Homo sapiens: one gene and its partner. The gene in region 1 interacts genetically with each later gene. Each region holds a gene or a part of one and is shown in the gene's direction. Other genes may lie near its edges. The genes, in order: APOOL and TRNAU1AP.

The links.
Region 2: changes in APOOL (region 1) and TRNAU1AP together harm fitness more than expected from each alone (negative genetic interaction), as found in Homo sapiens cells (one large-scale study listed by BioGRID).

Annotation. Positions count from the first base shown.
Region 1 is NC_000023.11:85,006,705-85,010,526, forward strand, and holds part of APOOL (MICOS complex subunit MIC27 precursor), read left to right. Parts: intron 1-3,822. UniProt on the Homo sapiens protein: Component of the MICOS complex, a large protein complex of the mitochondrial inner membrane that plays crucial roles in the maintenance of crista junctions, inner membrane architecture, and formation of contact sites to the outer membrane.
Region 2 is NC_000001.11:28,559,521-28,563,342, forward strand, and holds part of TRNAU1AP (tRNA selenocysteine 1-associated protein 1), read left to right. Parts: intron 1-1,112; coding exon 1,113-1,212; intron 1,213-1,592; exon of another isoform or gene 1,593-1,740; intron 1,741-1,825; coding exon 1,826-1,878; intron 1,879-3,822. UniProt on the Homo sapiens protein: Involved in the early steps of selenocysteine biosynthesis and tRNA(Sec) charging to the later steps resulting in the cotranslational incorporation of selenocysteine into selenoproteins. Stabilizes the SECISBP2, EEFSEC and tRNA(Sec) complex.

The DNA of each region.
Region 1 (3,822 bases):
TTTTGCTAAGCACTTTATGTGGATTCTCTCATTTATGTTTCACATTGGCCCTATGAGTAGGAATTTATATTAATCACTTTTTACAGGTAGGGAAACAGAAGCTTAAAAAGGTCAAGTAACTCCAAGGTCACACAGGAGTAAAGTGGTAGAGCTGGATCTGAAATCACATGGTATGAGTCCTGAACCTGGACTCTTAACCATACTTTGTAAGAAAGTGGTAAAATCAAGAGAACAAGTGGAGGGATTAACCTTGCAAAGAGGAGACACACTTTGCTTCAAAGGCCAGAGTTGGTCGAGATAGAAGGTGAAGATACCAAGTGATTTTGAAGAACGGAGGAGGTAGAGGAGGGAGCTCACATTGGAGGTCTGTATCTTCTGGGTGGAAGGTCATCTGCTGAGAGGAAAATATGCCTTTAGGAGTTTAAGAATGGGATAGGCTTGGAAAAGGTGCTTTAGGAAATTCAGTAAAGTATCAGTAGACATTGAATAAAATATTAATAATTGCTGAGAAGTGAGGGCCTGGCTAATGTTGGCTCTAGTAGTGACTTTCTCCAGCAGTGCTCACAGCATAGGAGGGGAAGAGGAGACAGTGGGGTTGCTCCAATGCTGAGTGTTGTCAAAGTGAGAATGATAGAAGATCTAGGGAATTTATCCAAATAGTCATCCACTGTGGATAAGGAGACAAAGAAGAAGATTGAAGTGATGGACTAGGGTACTAGAAGATTTATGGCCATAGTGAGAAAGAAGAACTAGTTCAAAAAGAGTAGGAGAGTTGAAAGAGCATTCTATTTTAATGAGGGAAATTTCAAGCATTTAGGATCTTGAAGGTGAAACGATTTCTAATAATTGCAAAGTAGGGTAACTGTGTTAGAAATGGCTAAGATTTGTGGAGATCATGGTGCTTGAGAAGCAAGGACTGTGCTGATCTCTCGGGTCTTCTGGAATCGGGGAATTCCTGGGGGTCTGGCCTTCAATTAAGTGGATTGGGAGGAATGTATAATAGTAGTGTCAAATAAAAGCCAAGTTTCATTTAATGCCAGAGGTTGAGAGTGAGTTTGAAGACAATTTGGGTATTGGCAGATAATTTGTTTTTAATGCATACTTAAAATCAAAATTTGTCTATGATTTATTGAGGACTTACTGTGTATCAGGTACTGCGCTAAGCTGTTGATACTCATTATTTCATTTAATTCTCACTAAAAGTCTTCTAAGGTAGGTAACTTTACCTGTAAGAACTGAAATAGATCAGTAAGGAAATCGAAACTGTAATGATAGGAGGTTGCACTCAGAGAAAAACTTGCTGAATTTATGATTTTAGCTATTAAGACGTTCTAGGGAATGGTAAATTCAAGATGTCCCCAGGGAATAGGTAGCTATAAGACCCTCTGGGTTTATGTATTTTTTTTTCTTTTTTTCCCCAGCTTTATTGAGGTATAACTGATAAATAAAATGGTTTGATTTTAAGGTGTGCAGTGTGATGATTTGATATACATATATTTTGTGGAATGATTACCAGAATCAAATTAGTTTATATGTATCACTTCACCATGCTGTGTATTATATCCCTTGAACTTACCTGTCATTGAAAGTTTGTGCCCTTTGGCCAACCTCCCAACCTCTCGCCTTTCCTTTACCTTTGCCTGTGGGAACCAGCATTCTATTCTCTAGTTCAGTGAGTTCAACTTCTCAAAATTCCACGTACAAATAAAATCAGGCAGTTTGTCTTTCTCTGTCTGACTTACTTCACTCAGCATAATACCCTTGAGGGTTATCCATGTTGTTGTAAATGACAGGATTTCTTTCTTTTTTTTATGGTTGAATGATAACCCGTTGTGTGTGTGTGTGTGTGTGTGTGTGTGTGTGTGTGTGTATACCACAGTTTCTTCATCCGTTGATCTGTTGGCAGACACTTCGATTAGACACTTAGGTTGTTTTCATGTTTTGGCTGTTGTGAATAATACTGCAGTGAATATGGGAGTGCAGATATCTTTGCAATTGCTGATTTCATTTGCTTTGGTTGTACACCTACTTTGGCTATTCAGAGTCTTTTGTGATTCCATACAAATTTTGCAATTGTTTATTTTTTCTATGTCTGTGAAAAATGCCACTAGAATTGAATCTGTGGATTGCTTTGGGTAGTATGGATATTTTAACAACATTAATTCTTCCAATTCATGAACATAGGATATCTTGCCATTCATTTGTATCTTCAATTTTTTCCATTATGGTTTGATAGTTTTCAATATACAGCTCTTTGACCTCTTGGGTTAAGTTTATTCTTAAGTGTTTTATTCTTTCTGATGCTATTTTAAATGGGATTGCTTTCTTTCTTTCTTTTTTGGGTAGATCATCTTCGATAGTGTATAGAAATGTAACTGCTTTTTTGTATGTTGACTTTGTATGCTGCAGTTCCCTGAGTTTATTTATTAGTTCTAACAGTTTTTTGGTGGCGTATTTAAGATCTTCTATGTATAATATCATGTAATCTGGGAGAAGAGACAATTTTACTTCTTCTTTTCCAATTTGTATGTCTTTCATTTCTTTCTCTTGCCTGATTGCTTTGACTAGAACTTCCAGTGCTATGTTAAATAAAAGTGGCAAGAGACTTGTTCCTGATCTTAGAGGAAAAGCTTTTAGCTTTTCACCATTGGGTATGATATTAGTTGTGGCCTTATCATATATGGCTTTTATTATGTTGAGGTACATATCTTGGATAATTAATTTGTTGAGAGTTTTTATCACAAAAGGATGTTGAATTTTGCCAAATGCTTTTTCCACATTCATTGAAATGATCATGTTGTTTTTGTCTTTCATTCTATTAATGTGGTGTATCATGTTTATTGATTTGGATATGTTGAACCATCCTTGCATCTCTGGGATAAAACTTACTGATCATGGTGAATGAGCCTTTTACTTTTATTTATTTATTTACTTTTTTTTTCAACTTCTATTTTAGGTTCAGGTGTACATGTGAAGATTTGTTACACAGGTAAACTCGTATCATGGGCATTTGTTGTGCAGATTATTTCATCACCCAGCTGTTAAGCTCATTACCCAGTAGTTGTCTTTTCTGCTCCTCTCCTTGCTCCCACCCATTACCCTCAGGTGTCTGTGGTTTCCTTCTTTGTGTTTGTAAGTTCTCATCATTTAAGTTCTCATCATTTAGCTCCCACTTATAAGTAAGAACATGTGGTATTTGGTTTTCTGTTCCTGCGTTTACTTGCTAAGGATAATAGCCTACAGCTCCATCCATGTTCATGCAAAAGACATGATCTCATTTCTTTTTATGGCTGCATAGTATTCCATGGTGTATATGTACCAATTTTTTTAATCCAATCTGTTATTGGTGAACATTTGGGTTGATTCCATATCTTTGCTATTGTGAATAGTGCTGTCAAGCTACCCTTCTAAGTGGCTGTATCATTTTGCATTCCTACTAGCAATGAATGAGACTTCCTGTTTCTCCATGTTCTCCCCAGCATTTACCGTCGTCAATGTTTCAGATTTTCACCCTGCTAGTAGGTATACAGTGGTATATCATTGTTGTTTTAATTTGTAATTCTCCAATGATATGCTGTTAAGCATCTTTTCATACGCTTATTTGTCATCTGTGTATCTTTGATGAAGTATCTGTTCAGATATTTTGCCCATTTAAAAAAAATTTTAATAGATTTTCAGGAACAGGTGGTTTTAGGTTAAATGGGTGAGTTCTTTAGTGGTGATTTCTGAGATTTTGGTGCACCTGTCACCTGAGCAGTTTACACTGTCTCCAGTGTGCAGTATTTTGTCCCTTACCCCCTCCCAGTATTCCCAAGTCCCCAA
Region 2 (3,822 bases), on another chromosome or scaffold:
GGGAGGCTGAGGCAGGAGAATCGCTTGAATCTGGGAGGTGGAGGCAGGAGAATCGCTTGAACCCAGGAGGTGGAGGTTGCAGTGAGCCAAGATTGCGTCATTGCACTCCAGCCTGGGCAACAAGAGCAAAACTCGGTCTCAGAAAAAAAAAACAGATCATACATTCTGCATTCATTTGTTTACTTGTGGTGTTTTGCATAGTCTATCTCTAAAATTTCCTGGAACTGGTTATTAGATCTAAAGTCTTGATGGGATTGCATAATACAATTTTGACAAGAGTATTCACACATGATAAAATGCATAAATGAATGTTTACTAAATGAGTCTGGGGCCAGGTGCCTTGGCTCATGCCTGTAATCCCGGAACTTTGGGAGGCCGAAGTGGGTGGATCTCCTGAGGTCAGGAGTTCAAGATCAGCCTGGCCAACATGGCAAAATCCCATCTCTACTAAAAATACAAAAATTAGCCAGGCATGGTGGTGGGTACCTGTAATTCCAAGTGTTCATGAGGCTGAGGCAGGATAATTGCTTGAACCTGAGAGGCAGAGGTTATAGTGAGCTGAGATCGAGATGATATCCGTCTCATAAATAAATAAATAAATACAGATAAACGAATCTTGGACTGGCCCAGATGGACAATCCTTATATTCAGGCTTGTAAATTAGGTCTGAGCTGGGGTATGGCAGGGAACAAAAACAGTGTTGGCTCAGATTAGAAAAACATTTCTTTCTCCCTTCAAGGCCAAGACCCATCTTGAGCCTTTTTTTTTTTTTTTTTAAAACAGTCTCAAACCAGCCTGTTGCTCAGGCTGGAGCAGTGTGGCATGATCTCAGCTCACTGCAACCTCCACCTCCTGGGTTACAGCAATTCTCCCCCTCAGTCTCCCGAGTAAGCTGGGACTACAGGTGTGCGCCGCCATGCCCAGCCAATTTTTGTATTTTTAGTAGAGATGGTGTTTCAGCATGTTGTCCAGGCTGGTCTCCTGACCTTCAGTGATCCACCTGCCTTGGCCTCCCAAACTGTTGGGATTATATGCGTGAGCCATCACGCCTGGCCTCATCTTGAGCCATTTTATCTTTAACCATTTTCTTTCTCTATTTGCTTTTTTTCCAGGATCCCAGCTGGCTACTGCTTTGTAGAATTTGCAGATTTGGCCACAGCTGAGAAGTGTTTGCATAAAATTAATGGGAAACCCCTTCCAGGAGCCACACCTGTAAGGACATTTAGATAATGATGATGTTGCCATTATTATTGTCATTGCTTACTACCATCTATTGAATCCCTACTGTATACTTATTTTATTTAATCCTAAAACAACCCTTTACAGTAGGCATTGTTATCTTTGTAGGCCCAGGAAACTGAAGCTCAGGGAATTGAAATAACTTGTCCAAGGCAACACAGGTAGTAAATGGCAGAGCCAGGATTCAGACTGAAGATTGGTTGCCTCCCAAATCCATGCCTTTCCATTCTGCATTGCTGCCTCCCATAACCGAAGACTTGAAACTCTAGACCTCTTGCCTGATTGGGAAACTAGAATAGGCTGGCAGCAGCAAGGACACATTTCAAGAGAGTTGCATTCTGCTCTTCCCACAGTTACTTAGCTTACAGCTGCACCAGCTGGCACACCTGGGCTCATAGAACCATGGAGCTGGCAGTGCCCTTAGCGGTCATCCGTGCAACCCCCTCATTTTATACAGGAGAAAAAGCTGAGGCTTAGAGAGGGGGAGATGTTTTGGCCAAGGTAATTTATTTCAGTTTTCTTCAAATATTGTTCAACTCTTGAAACACCTTTCTCTGTTTTAGTTTGTTTGTTTTTCAACTTCCAGGCGAAACGTTTTAAACTGAACTATGCCACTTACGGGAAACAACCAGATAACAGGTAGGTACAAAGTCATGTCTAGACAGACATAAGATGTGTCACTGTGCCTGTCACTGCCATATAGGAGGAGGGGAGCCGGTTTGGCTGCACTTGGTTCCCTCCTGAAGGACGACGCTCTTCTCCCTTCCTTGCTGGTGGACCTTCCTGGTGTGCTTCATGCAAGACCCTGGCTTTTCTGTATTTGGTCCCTGCCCCTGGCTTCCTACCCTGCTACTCCTCACAGTATTGAAGTTTTATTCAATAAGAATTGCCTTGTTAGCCAGGTGCAGTGGCTTACGCCTGTAATCCCAGCACTTTGGGAGGCCGAAACAGGCAGATTGCCTGAGCCTAGGAGTTCAAGAATAGCCTGGGCAACATGGCAAAACCCTGTCTCTACAAAAAAATACAAAAATGGCCGGGTGTGGTGGCTCACTCCTATAATCCCAGCACTTTGGGAGGCCAAGGCGGGCGGATCACGAGGTCAGGAGATCGAGACCATCCTGGCTAACACGGTGAAACCCCGTCTCTACTAAAAATACAACAAATTAGCCGGGCGTGGTGGCAGGCGCCTGTAGTCCCAGCTACTCAGGAGGCTGAGGCAGGAGGCTCACCTGAGCCCAGGGAGGGCTACAATGATCAAGGCTACTGTGAGCCATGATCGTGCCACTGCACTCCAGCCTGGGCAACAGAGTGAGACCCTGTCTTAAAAAAGAAACCCAATGAATTGACCTGTTATAGCAACATAAATTGATTGGAATTTCAGGTTGCCATTTGAAAGCATTAAAACGGTGTACCAAAAGCTTAAAAAACATTTATATGCATTAACCCTATAATTCTACTTTTCAGTATTTATTCATGGACGTGTGCAAAGATTAGCCTCAGATGTATTCATTGAAGTATTGTGTATAATAGCTAAAGTTGGGGAAAACCCAAATAACCTAATAGTAGGGAAGTGATTAAATTATGGTCATTAGTTAGGATGCGGTGTATCCACTGACAAGTCATTGCAGTATACTGACATGTCAAGATATTGGCAATATGTTGAAAATGAAAAAAAATACTAGAAACAAAATACGATGGATCGTATTTATGAACATTTAGAAGAAAAGCCACAAGAAAAGACAAAAGTATACATATCAAAGCATTTATTGTGATTGTCTTCAAGTGGTTGAGTTATAGCAATTTTATTTTTCTTTGCACTTTTGTGTTTTTTTTTTTTTGGAGACGGAGTCTCACTCTGTTGCCCAGGCTGGCGTGCAGTGGCACGATCTCTGCTCACTGCAAGCTCCGCCTCCCGGGTTCATGCCGTTCTCCTGCCTCACCCTCCCGAGTAGCTGGGACTACAGGTGCCTGCCACCACGCCTGGCTAAATTTTTTGTATTTTTAGTAGAGACAGGGTTTCACCGTGTTAGCCAGGATGGTCTCGATCTCCTGACCTCGTGATCTGCCCACCTCAGCCTCCCGAAGTGCTGGGATTACAGGCGTGAGCCATCGTGCCTGGACTGTGCTTTTGTGTATTCTTTTTTTTTTTTTTTTGAGATGGAGTCTCACTCTGTTGCCCAAGCTGGAGTGCAGTGGCATGATCTTGGCTCACTGCAATCTTTGCCGCCTGGGTCCAAGCAATTCTCCTGCCTCAGCCTCCCAAGTAGCTGGGATTACAGGCACCTGCCAATGCGCCCAGCTAATTTTTATATTTTTAGTAGAGATGGGGTTTCACCATCTTGGTCAGGCTGGTTTTGAACTCTTGACCTTGTGATCCACCTGCTTCGGTCTCCCAAAGTGCTGGGATTACAGGCATGAGCCACTGCGCCTGGCCTTGTGTATTCTTATTATACAAGGAATATGTATAATATGTATAATCATACCTGAAATAAGATAATAACAAAGGTAGGCCGGGTGCGGTGGCTCACGCCTGTAATCCCAGCACTTTGGGAGGCTGAGACGGGCAGATCACAAGGTCAGGAG